Linked DNA regions of Homo sapiens. The protein of the gene in region 4 purifies or fractionates together with the protein of the main gene of each other region. This does not show direct contact. Each region holds a gene or a part of one and is shown on either strand. Other genes may lie near its edges.

Region 1 (3,500 bases), about 50 Mb from region 4:
ATCACCTGAGGTCAGGAATTTGAGGCCAGCCTGGCCAACATGGCGAAACCCCGTCTCTACTAAAAATACAAAAATTAGCTGGGCATGGTGGCACACGCTTGTAATCCCAGCTACTTGGGAGGCTGAGGCAGGAGAATCGCTTGAACCCAGGAGGTGGAGGTTGCAGTGTGCCTAGATTGCACTACTGCACTCCAGCCTGGGTGACAGAGTGAGACTCTGTCTCAAAAAAAAAAAAAGAAGGCTAGTTAAGAAATATAGCTAAAAATGGCCAGGCACGATGGCTCACGCCTGTAATACCAGCACTTTGGGAGGCCAAGGCGGGCTGATCATGAGTCAGGAGATCGAGACCATCCTGGCTAACACGGTGAAACCCCGTCTCTACTAAAAATAAAAAAAAAAATAAAAAAATAAAAATTAGCCATGCGTGGTGACACGCGCCTGTAGTCTGAGCTACTCAGGAGGCTGAGGCAGGAGAATTGCTTGAACCCAGGAGGCAGAGGTTCCCTCCGGGAACCGAGTGCAGTGGACCAAGATTGCGCCATTGCACTCCAGCCAGGGCAACAGAGCGAGACTCTGTCTCAAAAACAAAAAAACAACAACAAAAAAAAAACAAAAAAAGAAATATAGCTAAAAGAAAAAAGAAAATCACCATAATTTCTGGAACTCTTATGAGACAGCTTAGAATTTTGACCAATGTCAATCATTACCTGGGAAGACTGATTTCAGGGCCCCCCCACAGATAGCAAAATCTGCAGATGCTCCAGTCCCTTATATCAAATGGCATAGTACAGTTGGCCCTCCAGATCCATGGGTTCGGAATCCATGGATATGGAGGGCCGACTGTAAAGGCATAAATCCATGAATATGGAGGGCCGACTGCATAGGCAGTGATGAATTGCTTACTCTGCTACAGCTTATATGCCTTTTGACTTTTTTTTTTTAAGGTATTTATCTCTCTTTTTAAAATTTTTTTGAGACAGGGTCTTGCTCTGTTGCCGAGGCTGGAGTGTAGTAACGTGATCATGGCTCACTGCAGCCTTGACCTCCCATGTTCAAGCAATCCTCCCACCTCAGTTTCCTGAGTAGCTGGAACTACAGGCATGCACCTGGGGTAAGGTATCATTTATTGAATACTTCCTAGGTGCTAAGCACAGTGTAAAGTGCTGTACATGTATTTTCTTTTTTTTTCCTTTTCTTTTGAGATGGAGTCTCACTCTGACGCCCAGGCTGGAGTGTAGTGGTGTGATCTTGGCTCACTGCAACCTCTGCCTCCTGGGTTCAAGCATTTCTCCTGCCTCAGCCTCCCAAGTAGCTGGGACCACAGACATGCACCACCATGTCTGGCTAATTTTTGTACTTTTAGTAGAGACAGGGTTTTACCATGTTGGCCAGGCTGGTCTCAAACTCCTGACTTCTAGTGATCTGCCCCCGTTGGCCTCCCAAAGTGCTGGGATTACAGGCATAAGCCACTGCTCCTGGCCACATGTGTTTTCGTATTAATCTTTACAACACACCTGTCAGATAGATACTGTTATTATGCCTTTTTTTTTTTTTTTTTTTTTTTTGAGACAGAGTCTCACTCTGTTGCCCAGGCTGGAGTATACTGGCACAATCATGGGTCACTGCAGCCTCGAGCTCTTGGGCTCAAGTGATCTTCTCACCTCAGCCTCCGAGTACAGACTAGGACTACAGGCACATGCCACCATGCCTGGCTAATTTTTTTTTTCAGAGATGAGGTCTCATTATGTTGCCCAGGCTGGTCTTGAATTCCTGGGCTCAGGTGATCCTCCTGCCTTGGCCTTTCAAAGTGCTGGAATTATAGATGTGCACCAGTGCGTCCAGCCCTATTGCCATTTTTACAAGTGAGGAATGTGTAGTTTAAGAGGTTATATAACTTGCTCAAGATTCTATAGCTCCTAGGTAGCTAAGCTGGGGCTGAAATCCAGTACTTTTGACTCTGAAGTTCACCATTTTTAAGCAGTTACACAGTTTTGTGAATGATTCCTTTGCTTTTCTTAAATATTACCTGAATGTAACATCCTCAGGCATTTTGTCTTTGTTTCTTTCTTTATCCATCATTTCCACAGAATTTACTCCATTTGGCTCAGGTTCAAAAAGCATTTCATATGAAATGTTTTCAGTTTTTTTTAACTGTAGAATAAAAAGAAAAATTTTCTTTTCAAAGAATTCTTATCACATTAGATTAGCATATCTAAAATAATTCCAAAATAAAGTTTATTGAACAATCACGGTCGGGCGTGATGGCTCACGCCTGTAATCCCAGCACTTTGGGAGGCCGAGAAGGGCGGATCACGAGGTCAGGAGATTGAGACCATCCTGGCTAACACGGTGAAACACTGTCTCTACTGAAAATACAAAAAAATTAGTGGGGTGTGGTGGCGGGCGCCTGTAGTCCCAGCTACTCGGGAGGCTGAGGCAGGAGAATGGCGTGAACCTGGCAGGTGGAGCATGCAGTGAGCGGAGATCGCGGACTGCACTCCAGCCTGGGTGACAGAGCGAGACTCCGTCTCAAAACAAACAAACAAACAAAAAAATAAATAAACAATCACACTCTATCAAATATTTACTGATAATAAATTTAGGTTCAAGTATATTAATAATATTAACATTCTTTACTACTAGGATGCAAAAAGTTATTTGTCTAAAGAGATGATGCAGGCCGGGCACAGTGGCTCACACCTGTAATCCCAGCACTTTGGGAGGCTGAGGCGGGCAGATCACGAGGTCAGGAGTTCGAGACCAGCCTGGTCAACATGGTGAAACTCCGTCTCTACTAATAACACAAAAAATTAGCTGGGCGTGGTGGCACATGCCTGTAATCCTAGCTACTTGGGAGGCTAAGGCAGGAGAATCACTTGAACCTGGGAGGCAGAGGTTGCAGTGAGCCAAGATCACGCCACTGTACTCCAGCCTGGGCGACAGGGTCAGATTCTGTCTCAAAAAAAAGAGATGGTGCATATTGCTAAGACCTAGCTGTTGGGATATAAGATTCCTTAACCGGGATTAATGATAATTTAATCTAGCTGTGACTGATTATGTTTTAAATTTTCAGTTAATGCATTTTTTTTTAATTTTTCTTTTTTTCTTTTTCTTTTTTCTTTTTTTTGAGACGGAATCTCACTCTGTCCTCCAGGCTGCAGGGTAGTGTGGCGCGATCTCAGCTCATTGCAACCTCTGACTCCCGGGTTCAAGCGATTCTCCTGCTTCAGCCTCCCAAGTAGTGATTACAGGCATGTGTCACTGTGCCTGGCTAACTCTTGTATTTTTTAGTAGATATGGGGTTTCACTATGTTTGCGAGGCTGATCTCGAACTCCGGGCCTCAAGTGATCCACTCGCCTTGGCCTCCAAAGTGCTGGGATTACAGGCATGAGCCACTGTGCCCGCCACGTTTTTTTTGTTTTTTTTTTTGAAACAGGATCTCACTCTGTGGCCCATCTCTACTCACTGCGACTTGGGCTCAGGTGATCCTCCCACCTCA
Region 2 (3,500 bases), on a different chromosome or scaffold from region 4:
GCTGCTGTTGTCATGGTGGTTATATAAAAACAATGCAAAAGAAATATAATATATTATTATCGTGTGGACCCCAAAGTGGGGTTTGTATGTCAGCCTGTGGGAGCAGAAACCTGGTAAAGGCAGGCAGAAGGTCCACTTGACTCCTTCTGACTGATTGGACCTCTTCTCATTTGAGATCTTTTTGAGGCACCACAATCAAGGACCAGTGAACTGCCTCCTTCTGAGGTATTACAAAAATAATTAATTGTCCAGCTGTTTCTAGAAGGCAATTTTAAAATTAAAATTTTTTCTATTTTTTTGCAATTATCAACCTAACACATTGAAGAAACTTGGGAAATATAGAAAAAACACACCAAAAAGTATCAGAGTTACACTAAAATGTTCATAGTCAGTAATATAGTCTTTCAGATTTTTTTTTCTGTGTCTGTCTGCTGTCTATGTCCATGCCTACCTTACTTTCTTCCCTCTCTCTTCCCTCCCCACCCTCCCTTCCTTCCTTCCCTCCTTCCCACCTTCCCTGCTTCCTTCTTGCCTGCCTCCCTTCCTGCCTGCCTCCCTTCCTGCCACTTACATTCTGTTAACAATGAGAAAAAAATTCCCCCATCATTAAATATTGTTGATTGGCATGAGAATGGCCAAGAGCACAGACTCAGGAGCCTTTGAATTCATGACATGCCTTTTGTTAGCTGTGTCACCTTAGGCAAATTATATAACATGTCTGTGCTTCAACATCTGTCCCAACATTTCTTTTTCTCATCTGTAAAATGGGAATAATAGTAGTTAATATTTACCTCATAGAGTTTTTCTGGGGAATTAAAACATGTGATTAAAATACATGTGGGCTTAATACATGTGAAATGCTCACAATAATGTTTATCACATTGTAAACCTACAATTAGTAGCTGCCTTTGTTGTTGGTATCATCATTATTGTTATATTATTCCATAATAATATTATTGGCAACATAGTATTCCATAATATGGATATACCATAATTTATTTAAATGATACTTTTTGGTTGGTATTTAGATTGTTTTCATGCTTTCCCCCATTTTGGAAGCAATATAGCAGTAAATATTTTTAAAGGTAGATTTTTTTTGGCTAATCTGTGATTATTTTTTAAGAATAAACTCCTAGGGGCAGCATTGCTTGGCCAAAGGCCATGAACATATTTTAAGTATCTATAGCATATTGCCAAATTTAGAATGATCATTTCAATTTACATTTCTGTCAGTGGTATAAGAGAGTGTTCATTTCTTTGCCCCTTTGCCTACTTTGGATATTATCATTAACACTTGTATATATCTTTGCCACTTGCATGGGTGAAAAGTGTAATTTTAACTGCTGTTTTAGTTTAATTTTTTCCTCTGATATTTTTATGAGCCAACCCTAAAGAAAATAAAAATGAACAGAAATACTTCACCAAGTTTCTGCAAGGAAATGTTATAGCAGTGTATTAGTCTGCTCTCATGCTGCTAATAAAGACATACCCAAGACTGGGTAATTTGTAAAGGAAAGAGGTTTCATTGACTCAGAGTTCAGCATGGCTGGGGAGGCCCCAGGAAACTTACAATCATGGCAGAAGGGGAAGCAAACACATCCTTCATGAGGCAGCAGGAGAGAGAAGCACCGAGCAAAAGGGAGAAAAGCCCCTCATAAAACCATCAGATCTCATGAGAACTCACTCACTATCATAAGAACAGCATGGGGGGAACCACCCTGTGATTCAGTTACCTCCCATCTCCCACAGCAAGGGGATTATGGGAACTACATTTCAAGATGAGATTTGGGTGAGGACACAGCCAAACAATATCAAGCAATAACTGTGTTGCCCTGTATACTTGCTAGGTTTGTGTATTCACATGCATAGCACAGGCATATATTGTAGTAACTTAGCCTTGTGAGCCCTTTGCTATTACTTGAAGTTCAGAAGGCTGAGCTATGGTGATTAATTTAACTGCAGGTAAACATGATCTTGTTAAGAGACACTGCAGTGTGCTCTGAATAAAATCAGTAGTGATTCATTTGTCCAGTTACCTTTTCTCTCTTGCAAGTACATATTAGAATTGCCAAGCACCTGTTCCATTCAGCCCTCAGAACCTATAGATCTTTGTTCTTTTGATTAGGCTCCTAAGCCTCTACACTGTATCACATTTAGGGGAGTGCTTCTCTGAAAATGCAGTGTTGCTTGGATTATTCCAGTGATTGTTTTAGGACAGTTTCAGGGCTGACCCTGGGATACATTATTAGGTAGGCAATGTTTTTGACACAAGCCTTCTATGATCCTCATCTGCAACCTTCTATTTCAAAGGACTCCAGGCTCTGAAATTAAATATTTTTAATGTATGTTCATTTATTCACAGGCCTTGGTTTCCTTTTTCCTCTTATTTCTCTCTTCTCCCTTATCCCTTCTGCAATGTCTGCACCTTTGTTGTTTTACTTGATTCTCATGGGTAAGATGTTAGGAAATGATTGTAGTACCCCTCTCTTCCTAAAAGCTTAGCTAAATGCATGCCACTACCATCCCCAAGGCATTGAGAATCACACTCTTCAGATGTGGGAATGCGCCTGGATAGTTCCAGTGGATATCCAACATTATCAATGTTTTGAATCATTTTAGTCAATGTGTTTAATTTATGCTTGAATTTCAGATCTTGTTAAAAGAGGGAATGCCGAGACCAGCTCGGTCGTGGAGACCCTAACCCAGTGGCCCTAGAGGAATTAAAGACACACACACACACACACACAAATATAGAATGTGGAGTGGGAAATCAGGGGTCTTACAGCCTTCAGAGCTGAGAGCTTTGAACAGAGATTTACCCACATATTTATTGACAGCAAGCCAGTCATAAGATTTACTAAAAGTATTCCTTATGGGAAATAAAGGGGTGGGTGAAATAAAGGGAAGAGCTCTGGCTAGTTATCTGCAGCATGAACATGTCTTTAAGGCACAGATCGCTCATGCTATTGTTTGTGGTTTAAGAATGCCTTAAGCGGTTTTCCGCCCTGGGTGGGCCAGGTGTTCCTTGCCCTCATTCCTGTAAACGGACAACCTTCCAGCATGGGCATCAAGGCCATCACGAGCATGTCACAGTGCTGCAGAGATTTTGTTTATGGCCAGTTTTGGGGCCTGTTCCCAACGAGGGCACAAGCTTTTTTTGTTATTGAAATGGCTCTTGGGTTTACAAAGGTAAAAATCCAATTTAAAACCGTGGCTTTAAATAATAATATTTTGAAGTTATGGAAATACTTTTACTTTTCAATATAGAGTTTCCCCCAATCAAATTTTGAGGACTAACATGGCATTGCTACGGTACAAGGAGATATCCTGTATTTGATCTAAACTAATTCTTATAATTTATTTGAAAATATGCTATATTCTTTCACTACTAATCCTTTTGCCTCAGATAAAATACCCAGGAGCTGATATGGATATCACTTTATCTGCTCCATCATTTTGCCGTCAAATTAGTCCAGAGGAATTTGAATATCAAAGATCAT
Region 3 (3,198 bases), on a different chromosome or scaffold from region 4:
TCATGCCCTGGCAGTAGGACACCTGTGGGTGGGTAACGGCATAGGTGGTGAGCAGGTCGTGCAGCGCCCGTAGATGTGGGCCATCCTCAGGCCCCGCATAGTAGGGGTGGGCCCGGTCAGTGCGCAGTACATCCTTGAGGACCGTGCTGCGGATGAATTCCAGGTCCTCAGGGTTCGCTCGCTGGGCCCACTCGCTCTTGAGCTGCTCATACTCGCGGCTCTTGCGTTTCATGTAGTCCATCCGCTCTCGGCCTGTCAGTCCATCTGGATACACGTTCAGCAGGTACCGCCACACCACCTGCCCAGGGGTGAAAGGGATGAGGCTGGAGTTCTCCAGATAAACCATACCCCAATGTCTATCAGTTGCCACCCACCCACCCCCCTTGGGCCTCTGTCTTCCTTCTAAGTCTGCTAGGCCTCCGACTGCTCGCCCCTCCTTAAAGAGAACTTCGTGCCCTGTAACATCTCCACCCTTGCCCACAGCAGTGTGGCTGACTGCATGTGTCTCAGGAGCTGTTAATGAGTGCAGCAGTGATGGACCCAACAGATGACTGAGGATGCTCACCTTTCGCAGCGAGGGCTCCACACCGCCATGATAGATCCGCAGGCGCAACTCCTCGGGTCGGGAGAGCTGGCCCTCGTGGTTCAGGTACGTGTGAAACTCAGCATCGCTCAGGGGTGGCTTGAAGGGCTTGACATCTTCCCCATACGACCAGCTCAGCACTTGTTGGACCTTAGACAAGGTACGGCCCACCTATGAGGAGGGAGGGAGGCCACCATCAGCTGTGTGGACTAGGGGCAGATGCCAACCAGCATGCTCAGAACCAGGGTGCCAGGAAGGCTCTGCCCTCCAACCACAGCTGGGTCCCTAGGGTCCCTGAAAACACCTGAGTGAGGATGGACTGTGTAAAGGGCAGGGCGGCAGTCGTCAGTGATGACCGTTTCTCAGCCAGCAACACGTCGGAGCCAATGACATCTTTGGGGCTGATTATGTCCCAGTCTTCTAGCAATGGGCCTGGGCAAACAGAACAAAGTGCTATAAGAATGGGGATGATAACCCAGACCTCAGGGCCGGCTTCCTCTCCTTCTACTGAAGCCGGGCTACCTGCAGGGGAACAAACAACTCCCAGTCCCTCTTCCTGTATCATCCAAATCATGTAAAAAACAAAATCAAACCATGAACAATTCTTTTGTAGTAGATGTCTCAGGAACTGGCTGGGCAGCCTCTAATATTTTAATGATATAAAGTAATATTTATTGAGCAGTTACTATGTGCCAAGCACTAGGACAAGCGCTCAACAGCAATATAAGAAATAATAATACTAGCTAATGCTTCCACAGTGCTGTATGCCAGGAACTATTCTGAATTCTTTGCCAATACTGACTCATGCAATAGTCACTTCAGTCCTATCGGTTGAGTACTACTACTACCATGACTCTCTTTGAGGAAACAGGCACAGTCATGATAAGGTACTTGCCCAAGGCCCCTTAGCTAGTGAGTGAAAGAGTGGAAATTTGAAGGCCAGGCCCAAGCTCAAGAGCCCAAACTCCTACTCTCATATTTTTGCCAGTCCTCCTCCCACAAACAGTGCACGCTAATATTACCATTCTCATTTTACAGACGATGACAAAAAGGTTTGGAACAAATAGTAAGTGACCAAGATTCTACAGCCAGGAAATAGTAGGGCTGGGATCTGAACTTCATTCACCCTAGTCCAGAGCCCAGACATACTTTAGAAATAAAATATTTGTGCAAAAGTGGAACAGGTATGCCGTATATGCTTTTTTTTTTTTTTTTTTGGAGACGGAGTCTCACTCTGTAACCGAGGGTGGAATGCAGTGGTGTGAACGTAGCTCACTGCAAACTCTGCCTCCTGGTTTCAAGTGATTCTCCTGCCTCAGCCTCCCGAGTAGCTGGGATTACAGGTGCCTGCCACCATGCCCAGCTAATTTTTGTATTTTTAGTAGAGACGGAGTTTCACCATGTTGGTCAGGCTGGTCTTGAACTCCTGACCTCACGTGATCCACTCGCCTTGGCCTACCCAAAGTGCTGGGATTATAGGCGTGAGCCACTGCACCCAGCCTCTTTTTTCTTTTTTTTTTGAGATGGAGTCTCACTCTGTCGCCCAGGCTGGAGTGCAGTGGTGCAATCTTGGCTCACTACAAACTCCACCTTTTGGGTTCAAGCAGTTCTCCTGCCTAAGCCTCCCAAGTAGCTGGGATTACAGGTGCCTGCCACCAGGTCCAGCTAATTTTTTTTTTTTTTTTGAGGCGGAGTTTCACTCTTGTTGCCCAGGCTGGAGTACAATGACGGGATCTCGGCTCACTGCAACATCCACCTCCTGGGTTCAAGTGATTCTCCTGCCTCAGCCTCCCGAGTAGCTGGGAGTACAAGCATGTACCACCATGCCTGGTGAATTTTATATTTTTAGTAGAGACGGGGTGTCTCCATGTTGGTCAGGCTGGTCTCGAACTCCCGACCTCAGGTGATCCACCTGCCTCGGCCTCCCAAGGTACTGGGATTACAGGCATGAGCCACCACACCTGGCCTAATTTTTGTATTTTTAGTAGAGATGAGGTTTCGCTATGTTGCCCAGGCCGGTCTCGAACTCCTGACCTCAGGTGATCAGCCCGCCTTGGCCTCCCAAAGTGCTAGGATTACAGGCATCTTTTTTTTCTTTTTTTGAGACAGTCTTGCTCTGTCCCCCAAGGCTGGAGTGCAGTGGTGCGATCATAGCTCACTGCAGCCTCAAACTCCTGGGCTCAAACGATCCTCTTGCCTCAACCTCCTGAGTAGCTGGGGCTTACAGGCGTGTGCCACCATGCGTGGATGATTTTTTTTTTTTTTGGTAGAGATGGGATCTTACTATATTGCCTATGGTCTTGAACTCCTGGGCTCAAGAGATCCTCCTGCCTTGGCCTCCCAAAGTGTTGGGATTACAGGTGTGAGCCACTGCACCTGACCGTTTCTCTTTCTTTTTCATTTTGCCCCGCATTCTTTCTTCCCACCTCACATAAGATGTGGTGGTTGAAGCAGCAGTGGCCATCTGAGAGTAGGTTCGAGAGGATCTTCAGAGATCCTCTCCTACAGCCCTGATACGAGAGGGCTACTAAGCCAACAATGGCAATGTCCAGTGGCTGGCTTTTTTTTTTTTTTTTTTTTTTGAGACGGAGTCTTGTTCTGTCACCCACACTGGC
Region 4 (2,420 bases):
ATTTGTGCTCTTCATGATTTTGACTTTTTTCTATAGTCCAGGCTCATTGCCTTGTAGAATACCCATTTTCCAAATTTGTCTATTGTTTCATTATTAGAATTGTAGGTGACATAATTCCAAACATATTTTACACACATATACTGTTACTTGAAAATGAGCAAACTAAGTTTAGCTTAGAAAAGAAAAGGTTTAGGAGCTTCTTTTGACGGTCACACTGGCTGTCAGATCTATAAGGACAAGTCATCAAGTTGTTTAAAGAAATGAATTTTCAACAATTGTGTGAAGCTATCTGCTGGGTGCAGGAAATAAAAAAATGAATAAATAATAGTCCCTGCCCTCCATAAACTGAAATCTAGGGCATGAGAAAAACACAAGTGACTGTAACTCAGGGCAGACTGATAGCTGGGAAAATGTCTCAAGAGAACAGAGAAAGGACAGTAATTTAATCTGGGAGGATCTGGAAAGGTGCCACAAAGAGCTAGGATGTAGATACACTTAAACAGTGGGTGGGTCTTTTTTTTATTTTTTTAATTAACAAATAATAATTGCCCATATTCATGGGGTACACAATGATATTTCCATACATATAATGTGTAGTGATCAGATCAGGGTAATTAGCATATCCATCATCTCAAACACTTATCATTTCTTTATGTTGGAAACATTCAACAACTTCCTTCCAGCTATTAGCTATTTGAAACTACACATTATTGTTAACTACAGTCATCCTACAGTGGTACAGGATATATTAAACAATAAGTATATTTCTTAAAACATGAGCAATGGCTTGGAAGACAGCACAGGTACAGAGATTGTGTGCCTAGTATGGTGCGAGAGGAGATAGGAAAATAGGCTGAAGAAAGATGGTGGTAGTTTATTTCCAATTTTTATGGATACATAATAGTTGTACATATTTATGGGGTACATATGATATTTTGATACAAACATACAACGTATAATGATCAAATCAGGGTAATTGGGGTATCCATCACCTCAAACATTTATCATTTGTGTTGAGAACATTCCAAATCCACTCCTTTATTGTGAAATATACAATAAATTATTAACTGTATTTACCCTATTGTGCTACCAAACAACAGATCATATTCCTTCTATAGATTTTTACACCCATTACCCAACCCCTTTATCCTCCCACCCCCCAACCCCCATTACCCTTCCCAGCCTCTGCTATCCTGTTGTATTCACTACCTATAGTGGTAGATTCTGAATGTAATTTGATTCCATGCATATTCATTCTAAGTGTATCTATTGACAGTTTCTATCTGCTTGGGTGTGGGGCATGATACAATCCCATTTAACTCAGAGAGATCTCTGTGGCAGAATGTGTTGGCTGGGGCAATATCCAAAGTTTAAGCAGTTTAAGAAGCTACTGCAAAATCCAGGTAGGCTGTAGTAAAGCCTGAAGCACGCGATGTAAAACAAAGCAATGGTTACTGGCTGGATGTAGGGAGCAAGGATGAAGTCAAATGATTTTTTTTAAGGATTTATATGCCTTTAGATAAAATATGAATTAAGATGCCTAAAACATGTAGCCTCTGGCTAACCCTAGACTCCAAGAGAAGCTCCCAGCCAAGTCTCCTGGAGACCACCGGAAATGAGTCATCACACTATAATCCACTGCCAAGTAATGATTCTGGATCCCGTCCACCAATTCACCCACAGACTTCATGTTCTCAGCAGCACAGTGATGTGACAGGAAGCATCATAGAAATGAGATTTCATTTAATGGCCTGAGAAGCTAAGGTTAGAATTGGGGTTCCGAACTGAAATACTTCCAAGGCCCAGCAGATAAGTGAGTAAAGTGGGTCCCTTAGCCTTGGTGTCAGGGAGACAATCCAGGATGGTGGGCCATAGAGCAAACCATGGAGTGCATACCCTGAGCAAGGGTGTAGCCACCCGACAGGTGGAGTCACTCAGCTCCACCCAAGTGTTGTCATTCAAGACTGTGGGCTCAGTGTTGTCGAAACGGCACATTTTAAAAAAGAGCAGCTTGAAATGCAGATTTTAGATTTCCTCATTTTTAAATGCTGGCAATTGTTCAAAAACAAGATGGACAAACAGAAAAATAAACCAAAACACTGTGAAGGACAAATAGCACATTGTGTGAAAACACAATGGAGCCCACAAGATGCAACCCTGGTGCCGAGATCTGCGGAAAGTGAAGAGAATTGAGAAGGAAGTTGCTGGGAGGACTAGAAAATCTCTATTAATCAGAATCCAGAGCACTCCACTGAGAGCACAATCCAGCTGCTGGAAATAGGATTTAAGTGGAAATTCCTCCCTCTCAGTGAATAACAAATATGATGCGTATTTTCCTGATTATGGTCTTTACGTCTTACATTTTCCAACTCTCTTGATATCCCCATTTTGCAGAGTTTCGGTAGAGAATCATTCTCTTG
Region 5 (3,500 bases), on a different chromosome or scaffold from region 4:
GAGGTTGGGAGATCGAGACCATCCTGGCTAACACGGAGAAACCCCATCTCTATTAAAAATACAAAAAATGAGCCGGGTGTGGTGGCACGTGCTTGTAGCCCCAGCTACTCGGGAGGCTGAGGCAGGAGAATCGCTTGAACCCAGGAGGCGGAGGTTGCAGTGAGCCAAGATTGAGCCACTGTACTTCAACCTGGGCGACACAGTGAAGATTCCATCTCAAAAAAAAAAAAAAAGAATTAAAAATATTTCCCAGGCTATAATCCTCCAATGGTTTCCTATCACAACTAAAGTCTATATTCTTTGCCAAGGCCCACTATACACACATGGCCTTAACCCACCATAGTCCTGGCATCCTTTTCACTCTTCCGCAGCCACCCTGTGTCTTTCTGTCCTTGGCCAAAAACAAGTTTGCTCCCATTCAAGGAACTCCAAAGTAACTGTCTGTGTGGACCCCTGGCTCTCACCAACCATCCTCACAAGGCTCCCTTCTCACTTTAGGACTGCTCACAGGTCACGTAAGGAGAGCAGCCATCTTTCATCCCCACAACCCCCATGTAACTGTCCTCCTCCCCAATCCATGACCCTATTTTACTTTTCTCCCTAGCACCTCACCACCTAACATTCTTGATTATTCATGTATTATCTATCCCTAGCTCCCTCCAGAATGTAAGGATCAGAGTTAGGATGAGGTTCTGTCTTGTATACCACTGTCTGCCCTAAATCTGGAACACAGCCTGGCCACCTAAAGGTACTCAATAAACATCTGTTTCAGCACACCCAAAACTAGTCAAGTTTCTCCCAGTTTTCCCACATCTTTTAATATTTCTTCTAACATTCTCTCTTGATTTGTCATCTAATCAAATCTTTTAAAGTGGTAAGCATCAAATCTTTTAAAGTGGTAGCTATTCAGAATTAAAGATGCAAGATAGGCTACCAAGAAACAAAAAATATTAAATGATGAATTCTAAAGTCCAGGGAAAAGTCAATGCTAACTCCAATTTGACATAAGAACTTTTTTTTTTTTTTTTTTTGAGATGGAGTCTCGCTCCGTCACCCAGGCTGGAGTGCAGTGGCGTGATCTCGGCTCACTGCAATCTCTGCCTCCTGGGTTCACACCATTCTCCTGCCTCAGCCTCCCGAGTAGCTGGGACTACAGGCGCCCGCCACCACGCCCGGCTAATTTTTTGTATTTTTCGTAGAGACGGGGTTTCACCGTGTTAGCCAGGATGGTCTCGATCTCCTGACCTCGTGATCCACCCGCCTCGGCCTCCCAAAGTGCTGGGATTACAGGCGTGAGCCACCACACCTGGCCCATAAGAACATTTAATACTAAAATATCTTAACTACAAAATGACTCAACCCATAGATTTAACTGAATTCTACAGGGAGGTACAAGGCATCAGTCATCAAAATATGTTTTTATCGGTACCCTTGAAATCAAATGTAATGAGACTGTGTATGATGTTACTAGAAAAGATGCCCAATCATAAAGGATAGGTAAATAAATGATACTCCAACCATCTGATGGTACATTAAGCAGTTACTAGAAGGCATGCGATAGAGCAGGGTGTCCTGGCATGGAAAGATATCTTGGAGCACTCTCTGGATGTCAAGCAGTGATTCAGGAATTTATGACATTATTTCACTGCTGTAAGTTATGAAGCAGCTCATATAGAATGATCTCATTTTTCTAAAATAAAATGTTATATTCATATGCATACCATAATCAATGACTTTTCTGTATTCTCTATGTCTTTTACATCAAACATATTATTCAAAAAAGCAAAAAAAAAAAAAAAAGAGAGGGCTTAAAATAGCTACTGGAAAGAGGAAAGATCTGTTGCTCAGAGGTTTTTCCACATTACATTGCCAATTCTTTCCCTACCTTCACCCATCAGTGGAAAAGAATAGAAAGAGTCACTTCAGAGAGCGCCTTTAGCCAGCAAATTAGCAAAGCTCCTAACGTCAGAACATAAAATGCTCCATGAAAAGTCAAGAGTACTAATAAAATCGGACAATAAGATCTTAGTATCTTATTTTGTGTTACTGATACTACCGTCAGTTATGTTAGACATACCGTTAAATAAAGGCAAGGTAGTAGAAAATACTTTGAGTCTATCTGAAATGTTTACTAGGTTCTTAGGAGCATCTCTTAGCTTGACGAGACCAGGCGTGGTGGCTCACACCTGTAATCCCAGCACTTTGGGAGGTTGAGACAGGTGGATCACCTGAGGTCAGGAGTTCCAGACCAGCCTGGCCAACATGGTGAAACCATCTCTACTAAAAACACAAAAAATTAGCTGGGCGTGGTGGCACACACCTGTAATCCCAGCTACTCAGGAGGCTGAAGCAGGAGAACTGCTTGAACTCTGGGCGCAGAGGTTACAGTGAGCCGAGATCGCGCCATTCCACTCCAGCCTGAGCAACAAGAGCGAAACTCCATCTCAAAAAAAAAAAAAAGGCCAGGCGCGGTGGCTCACACCTATGATCCCAGCACTTTGGGAGGCCAAGGCAGCTGGATCGCTTGAGGTCAGGAGTTCGAGACCAGCCTGGCCAACATACTGAAACCCTGTCTCTACTAAAAATACAAAAATTAGCTGGGCATGGTGGCATATGCCTGTAATCCCAACTACTTGGGAGGCTGAGGCAGGAGAATCACTTGAACACGGGAGGAAGAGGTTGCACTGAACCAAGTTTGTGCCATTGCACTCCAGCCTAGGCAAGAGTGAAGCTCTGTCAAAAAAAAAAAAAAAAAAAAAAGAAATAGCTTGAAGAACAAAGCCGAGCGTCATTTATGTATGATTTTTGTCTAAGTAACAAAAATAATTCTTCATTGTAGAAAAGCTAAATTTTTTGTTTGTTTGTTTGTTTTGAGACAGAGTCTTGCTCCACTGTCCAGGCTAGAGTGCAGTGGCACGATCTCAGCTCACTGCAACCTCTGCCTCCTGGGTTCAAGTGATTCTCCTGCCTTAGCCTCCTGAGTAGCTGGGATTACAGATGCCCGCCACCACACCCAGCTAATTTTTGTATTTTTAGTAGAGACGGGGTTTCACCATGTTGGCCAGGCTGCTCTCGAACTCCTGACCTCGTGATCCGCCCACCTCAGCCTCCCGAAGTGCTGGGATTACAGGCGTGAGCCACCATGCCCAGCCAAATGTTTTACATCTCAGTAAGAATTTCTGTTTCCAGGGAGACTGATATAAAATTGTCTGAAATAAAGATATTAAAAGCAAACTTTCAATGTGTCTATACTTTATATTTGGTGTTCTGGCCATGTTTCTATGGAAACTTATGAATAATAGGCAAATGCCGAAATGGAGATTTCTATTATCACTTTATTGAATGCCACAAAAATAAATTTTGAGACAAATTGAAATAAAAATGTAACTGTCATACTAACATACAATGGTAAATTCTGTGCTTACAAATTCTCTTTTTCCAACTTTTCTGATTTAGCACTCTTTATCATCATCCCATGCTTAATGCCTGGTACCTTACCT
Region 6 (3,500 bases), on a different chromosome or scaffold from region 4:
TGAGAAAATGTGTTGTGTGGTACTTGGCATAAAGCCAGGAATATACTAAGTGCTCAGTAAATGATAACTGGCATTGCAGTTGCTGTGAGAGGGTGTTTGATCTGGATAAAGCAGAACAGACAGATCCCCAGAATGCCAGGCCGGTAAAAGGAGCTTTTGGAAGCTTTTCCTCTTCCCTATTTTATATCTGAAAGGTAACAGAAAGCATAGGCTACTCCATAGGCTGCACTGCCCTCTTCGGGGTTCCTGACCAGCCCAGAAAGGCTTTGCCCTTGGGGCCTGAGAGTGGTGGTGTTGTTTCCCATCTACTCAGTATTATGAGGTGACTAAGTGATAGAAATCACCTGGCCAATATTAAAGAGAAATGATTACAAATGATAATGAATAGAAATAAATAATACATGATGGATAGACATTAAGTTATTTCAATAAGAGGAAATGTTGGCTCAGTTCACATATTGCTTTCCTGTGCTTTGGAGTGGTCTTTAATCTGTGTTTGCTGAACCAAACACTTCTGGATTTTTCCCTTAGGGGTGTGAGGATATTGCTTCATGGGGGAGAGCTCCAGCTGAGTCTGTTAGTCTGTAAAGCAGAGAAATGACCCCCTTGGCTTGACCTCTGGGGGTGGGGGTGGGCGATGTCTTGCAGGTGATGAAGACATATCACATGTACAATGCCGACAGCATCAGTGCTCAGAGCAAACTAAAGGAGGCGGAGAAGCAGGAGGAGAAGCAAATTGGTAAATCGGTAAAGCAGGAGGACCGGCAGACCCCACGCTCCCCTGACTCCACGGCCAACGTTCGCATTGAGGAGAAACATGTCCGGAGGAGCTCAGTGAAGAAGATTGAGAAGATGAAGGAGAAGGTATGTAGGCTCCCACAGCTGTAGATGCTGGGAAGCAACATTCGGTAAGGCATGGCTGATAGGAATTTCCCAGTAGTCACTGGGAAGAGCAGACGAGGAAGCTCTGGGTTCTTTTAGTGCCTAATGACTGAAAATGAGGCCTTGCTCTGTGCCCTGGCAGGAATACTAGGTATTGGAAGAACTGGGCACGTGGGATCCAAGTTTCTAGCCTCTAGCAGAAAACCAAGAAACAGCAGTCACCTTTCCCAATCCATTTTCCAAATAGAGCTCAATATCCTATTGCTTTGGAGGGGTTGGGGGTGACTGTAAACCCAGGATTTGGTTTCAGGTATCAGGTGTTCAGGGGCAAGAGTAGTGGTACCTCCTTCAGAGTGGCATTGCAAGAATGAAGAATGATATTTGAAGATAGAATCAAAGTGGGGCACGCATCTTAAGTAGGGAGCCTCATTAACCTTTCCTGAATTGATCTACATTGTGCCCTTGAATCTCATTAAACAGAATTAGAACCCAATTTAAGGCAGATGCGCATAGGGAGTAGCAACACAATTGTAGTTCTTGAATACACTGTACTTTTATCTTTTAGAGAACAAGCCCCCCTTAAAAAAAAAAAGGTAAAAGTGAACTTCTGTTTCCTTTTCAGCGTCAAGCCAAGTACACGGAGAATAAGCTGAAGGCCATCAAAGCCCGGAATGAGTACTTGCTGGCTTTGGAGGCAACCAATGCATCTGTCTTCAAGTACTACATCCATGACCTATCTGACCTTATTGATGTAAGTGCTTAAAGCCAAGGGCCTGAGGGCACCTCTTTTCTGGTTTCAGAATACTCGTCAGACATTCCCCGATACTATTGTTCAGGAATCTGGTGCATTTTGAGAACAATTAGGAAGATAGCAGCCATGATCCATCAGGGTGCTTGCCAAGCACCAAGTGAAACACTTCACACTTATTCAATCCTAACTGGAATTCTGGGAGGAAGGCATTATTATCTATATTTTTACAGATTAACAGAGAGTTTAGATGACTTAGTCAGAGTCAGTTAACAAATGACAGAGGCAAAATTTGCACCTAGGCCTGATGACTCAACCCAGGCTCATAACCACTACACTCGTCTATCTGCCAGGAAATACTTTCTTCCTTTTTTTTTTTTTTTTTTTTTTTTTTGAGATAGAGTCTTGCTCTGTCCCCCAGGCTGGAGTGCAGTGGTGCAATCTTGGCTCACTGCAACCTCCATCTCCCAGGTTCAAGCAATTGTCCTACCTCAGCCTCCCCAGTAACTGGGACTACAGGCATGCATCACCATGCCCAGCTAATTTTTGTATTTTTAGTAGAGATGGGGTTTCACCATGTTAGTGAAGCTGATCTGGAACTCCTCACCTCAGGTGACCTGACCTCAGGTGATCCACCTGCCTCGACTTCCCAAAGTGCTAGGATTACAGGTGTGGGCCCTGCACCCGACCTAGGAAATACTTTATTACATCAGCTTCTCTTGCACAGAAGTGAGTGGCAAGAACTTAACTAAAGAGTTACAATGCCATCCCTTATATTTGTATAGCATTTAAGGTTTCTCAGTGTTAACTCATTTGACTCTCACATCACCATTATGGGTAAGCATTGCTGTCTCCAGTTGCTAGATAAGGAAGCTCAAGGTCCAGAGGACTACGAGACTCACTTGTCCAAGGTTATGCTGCAAATTAGGGTCCTGTCAGGAAGGTATCCAGCTCCCCCTGACATCTGGCCCATTTTTTAAAATATGTGATGCAAAGGGGATTGAGGAAAGCGGCTAATAGGCACATGTGTTTTGCAAGGGGCAAGCGCAGGGATAAGCTTTTTGTTTTTTGCCTGTGAGTTATTCTTGGCCTTGTTTTTCCTGCTGCTTCCCCTTACAGTTGGGTCTTACAAGCCCTCTCACCTACAGACTCCAATCTGGCCCAGGTCCTGAGCCACACCTAAGTGAAGCTATGTAATTACACCCTTTCTCACCTCTCCTTCCAGTCATCAAAGTGAGGCATCTGGAGCCAGCCAATTTAGCATCCCAGTCTCTGGGGCTTCAAGTGTATCTCATCTCGGAGGCCTGCCATTTGTTTCAGGGTCTTGTTGGCAGCAGTTGGGCTTTGCAAAACTCTGGCCCGACCACTCTTGCTTTCCTGCCTTGGTTTCTCCACAAGCAAACCTGCCACACCTCACAACATCATATGGGATTTGGGTCCGAGTCTTGCTGTTATATCACCACCTGGGTCATCTAGGCTTGTCACTGAATTGTTCTGAAACCCAGCTTTGTTTCTCACCCACTCCCAAGCTCCTCTAGCTAACTGAAGAACTGGACTAATTCCCTGGTATTAAAATCTGGCCTCACGTAAGAGTTGCTTGGGGAACTTCTCTAAAATACAGATTCCTGTCTCCCTTTAGCCGAGGATTTTTGATTCAGTAGATTTCAGCCACTTAATGCCCTAGGTGTCATTGTCTCACTGGGTTAGTAGAGCCTTGCTCCCTGTTCTGGTACCTCTTTGTTCTCTCTGCTTATTGATGACAATCTGAACACTGTCCTTCAATGGAGGTCAGAGCCCTAAACAAGATCCTTTCTCCTCCTCAGGGGAAGAGCTCCTCATTGTTGGGAGAGAGGCCTGTTCTCAGCATAAG
Region 7 (2,390 bases), on a different chromosome or scaffold from region 4:
TCTTAGAGCCCCTGACCTGACCAGTGGGGTCAGCTTGAGTGCGGTTCACCAAGGAGCAGAGGACAAGGTGCCCTGTGATAGGAAGGGGGGAATGGGTGGTAACTCTATGGCTGATCCCCGCTTCTGAGCCACATTATTTTCTCTTCCTTCCTGGGAACCCTAGAACTGCCTGATAAAGAGGGATGAGAATGGTTACTCTGCAGTGGTAGCTGACTTTGGCCTGGCTGAGAAGATCCCCGATGTCAGGTGTGTAGCCCTACTGGATGCTGGGGTCCAAGGGACAGGGGGCTGAAGCTAAGGGAAAATTCTAGCCTCCTCCCCAGAGGCCAGGACTTGGTCACAGCTCAACCTCAGCTCCCTAAATTTGTTTAGTCCTCGTCTGTACCCATCCTTGAGGTGGAGGAATGGTCAAAAGATTCCATTGCACCAGCCATTGGCAAGCTCATTTTCTGTATAATCTCACCCCACAGCATGGGGAGTGAGAAGCTGGCCGTGGTGGGTTCCCCATTCTGGATGGCACCTGAGGTTCTCCGAGATGAGCCCTATAATGAAAAGGTAAGTTTGGAGGATCTCAAGGCCTGATTCTCCTTTTTTCTTTTTCTTTTTTTTGAGATGGTCTCACTATGTTGCTCAGGCTGGAATGCAGTGGCACGATCTCGGCTTACTGCCTCCCGAGTTCAAGCTATTCTCCTGCCTCAGCTTCCCAAGTAGCTGGAATTACAGGCATGCACCACCACGCCCAGCTAATTTTTTTATTTTTAGTAGAGACAGGGTTTCACCATATTGGCCAGGCTGGTCTCAGACTCCTGACCTGAAGTGATCTGCCCACCTCGGCCTCTTGAAGTGCTGGGATTACAGGCATGAGCCATCGCGCTCGGCTGATTCTCCCTAGAATCCACTCTTAGCAGAGTGTCCAAGATGTTCCTACCAAGAGCAGTGGTGGTACCTGGCAGCTGCCCAGTGACTGACTGGGATGAAGTATGGGCAATATGGCCCAGGCCTGGGCTGTTAGATGGTGGGGTGCAGGGGAGGCAGGGGCAGGGGCAGATACCCTACCCCTCAACCCATTAAGAGGGAAACCAAAGTCCGACTACCCACCAGGCAGATGTGTTCTCTTATGGTATCATCCTCTGCGAGATCATCGCCCGCATCCAGGCCGATCCGGACTATCTTCCCCGCACAGAGGTGAGCTGCAAGCATGGGGATCATTGCCACTGATGGGGCTAGTTTGAAGCAATGGAACTGTTCTGTCCCTGGGATGGACTTGCTGGAACTCTCTGTTGCTGGTTGTCAGGGGCAGCTCCCAACCACTTCTACTGAGCAGGCTAGGATGGGTGGGGGGATTAATGAACTGTCTACCTATGCTTTCCATACCCATCCACAGAATTTCGGGCTGGACTATGATGCTTTCCAGCACATGGTGGGAGACTGTCCCCCAGATTTTCTGCAACTTACTTTCAACTGCTGTAACGTGAGTGTCTTTCTCCCTCTGCCTTTCATCAGGGGCTGGCTGAACCCTTTTCACCTGGTTAGGACTGTACAGAGAGGCTGCTAATTAGCTTCATGAGGGACCTCATTTTCACTGTAGTGACAGCAACCACACCTCCTCCTCCTCCCTCTGGCAGCTAACCTATTCAGAGCTCTGGACAAAGGAAAGAAAGAAGTTGTTTTGTATTATCTGGTCCTCAACCTGTAGGGTAGACCCATCACTCCTTGCGTTAGGTGTTGATGGAACTCTGGTCCGGTTTTATTGTTGGACTGTGGATCCAACTGGTCCTGAGGCATATGAGAAAGGCTCTTCTTGGCCTTCATGTATGTAGCTCTGGGGCTGGACCTTACCTGTTAGGATCAAGGGGTAGGTGGGCTTTGTTCAGATACCTCCCAGAAACACATTAGGAGCAGAACTCAAGAACAGAATAAACTAATATGAGCATACTTTTGGAAGGTTCTGTGACAAGGTGATAAGACAAACACTAAGACAGGGAGGGTAGTAGACAGTAGTGTTTTCCCTGACCTGAACTGTAGGGATCACCTTCATTGTCTGGGGCCTTTAGAAAAGGTCTCTCAGCTGCACATCTGAATCTTCAAAGATGCCAGAAATAGACTCAAATGCCATCTTTGGGGTGGGAGATGGAGGGCAGAGCTCATGGCTGTTGTGGATACCTACAGATGGATCCCAAACTGCGCCCATCTTTTGTGGAGATTGGGAAGACCCTGGAGGAAATTCTGAGCCGCCTACAGGAAGAAGAGCAGGAGAGGGATAGGAAGCTGCAGCCCACAGCCAGGGGTAAGAGATTAGACCAGGGAGCCCAACCTAACCCTAAGGGAGGAAATTCGGATGTGGGGCCTTCTCCTCTTAGGGTTGTGATTGCCAGGATCCCAGGTCCAGA

Evidence for each region.
Region 1: the proteins of RAB3IP (region 4) and PLEKHA5 purify together in Homo sapiens (affinity purification with mass spectrometry, with the first as the bait; one large-scale study listed by BioGRID). This does not show direct contact.
Region 2: the proteins of RAB3IP (region 4) and DEPDC1B purify together in Homo sapiens (affinity purification with mass spectrometry, with the first as the bait; one large-scale study listed by BioGRID). This does not show direct contact.
Region 3: the proteins of RAB3IP (region 4) and TBC1D25 purify together in Homo sapiens (affinity purification with mass spectrometry, with the first as the bait; one large-scale study listed by BioGRID). This does not show direct contact.
Region 5: the proteins of RAB3IP (region 4) and CCNYL1 purify together in Homo sapiens (affinity purification with mass spectrometry, with the first as the bait; one large-scale study listed by BioGRID). This does not show direct contact.
Region 6: the proteins of RAB3IP (region 4) and SRGAP2 purify together in Homo sapiens (affinity purification with mass spectrometry, with the first as the bait; one large-scale study listed by BioGRID). This does not show direct contact.
Region 7: the proteins of RAB3IP (region 4) and TESK2 purify together in Homo sapiens (affinity purification with mass spectrometry, with the first as the bait; one large-scale study listed by BioGRID). This does not show direct contact.

Annotation. Positions count from the first base shown.
Region 1 is NC_000012.12:19,360,233-19,363,732, reverse strand, and holds part of PLEKHA5 (pleckstrin homology domain-containing family A member 5), read right to left. Parts: intron 2,152-3,500; coding exon 2,027-2,151; intron 1-2,026.
Region 2 is NC_000005.10:60,599,167-60,602,666, reverse strand, and holds part of DEPDC1B (DEP domain-containing protein 1B), read left to right. Parts: intron 1-3,406; coding exon 3,407-3,500.
Region 3 is NC_000023.11:48,556,714-48,559,911, reverse strand, and holds part of TBC1D25 (TBC1 domain family member 25), read right to left. Parts: intron 1,016-3,198; coding exon 888-1,015; intron 755-887; coding exon 566-754; intron 299-565; coding exon 1-298. UniProt on the Homo sapiens protein: Acts as a GTPase-activating protein specific for RAB33B. Involved in the regulation of autophagosome maturation, the process in which autophagosomes fuse with endosomes and lysosomes.
Region 4 is NC_000012.12:69,821,280-69,823,699, reverse strand, and holds the end of RAB3IP (rab-3A-interacting protein isoform alpha 1), read right to left. Parts: 3' UTR 501-2,420; downstream 1-500. UniProt on the Homo sapiens protein: Guanine nucleotide exchange factor (GEF) which may activate RAB8A and RAB8B. Promotes the exchange of GDP to GTP, converting inactive GDP-bound Rab proteins into their active GTP-bound form.
Region 5 is NC_000002.12:207,714,640-207,718,139, reverse strand, and holds part of CCNYL1 (cyclin-Y-like protein 1), read right to left. Parts: intron 1-3,500. UniProt on the Homo sapiens protein: Key regulator of Wnt signaling implicated in various biological processes including male fertility, embryonic neurogenesis and cortex development. Activates the cyclin-dependent kinase CDK16, and promotes sperm maturation.
Region 6 is NC_000001.11:206,392,041-206,395,540, forward strand, and holds part of SRGAP2 (SLIT-ROBO Rho GTPase-activating protein 2), read left to right. Parts: intron 1-648; coding exon 649-864; intron 865-1,504; coding exon 1,505-1,633; intron 1,634-3,500. UniProt on the Homo sapiens protein: Postsynaptic RAC1 GTPase activating protein (GAP) that plays a key role in neuronal morphogenesis and migration mainly during development of the cerebral cortex. Regulates excitatory and inhibitory synapse maturation and density in cortical pyramidal neurons.
Region 7 is NC_000001.11:45,345,774-45,348,163, reverse strand, and holds part of TESK2 (dual specificity testis-specific protein kinase 2), read left to right. Parts: intron 1-163; coding exon 164-246; intron 247-470; coding exon 471-555; intron 556-1,101; coding exon 1,102-1,185; intron 1,186-1,384; coding exon 1,385-1,471; intron 1,472-2,169; coding exon 2,170-2,287; intron 2,288-2,390. UniProt on the Homo sapiens protein: Dual specificity protein kinase activity catalyzing autophosphorylation and phosphorylation of exogenous substrates on both serine/threonine and tyrosine residues. Phosphorylates cofilin at 'Ser-3'. May play an important role in spermatogenesis.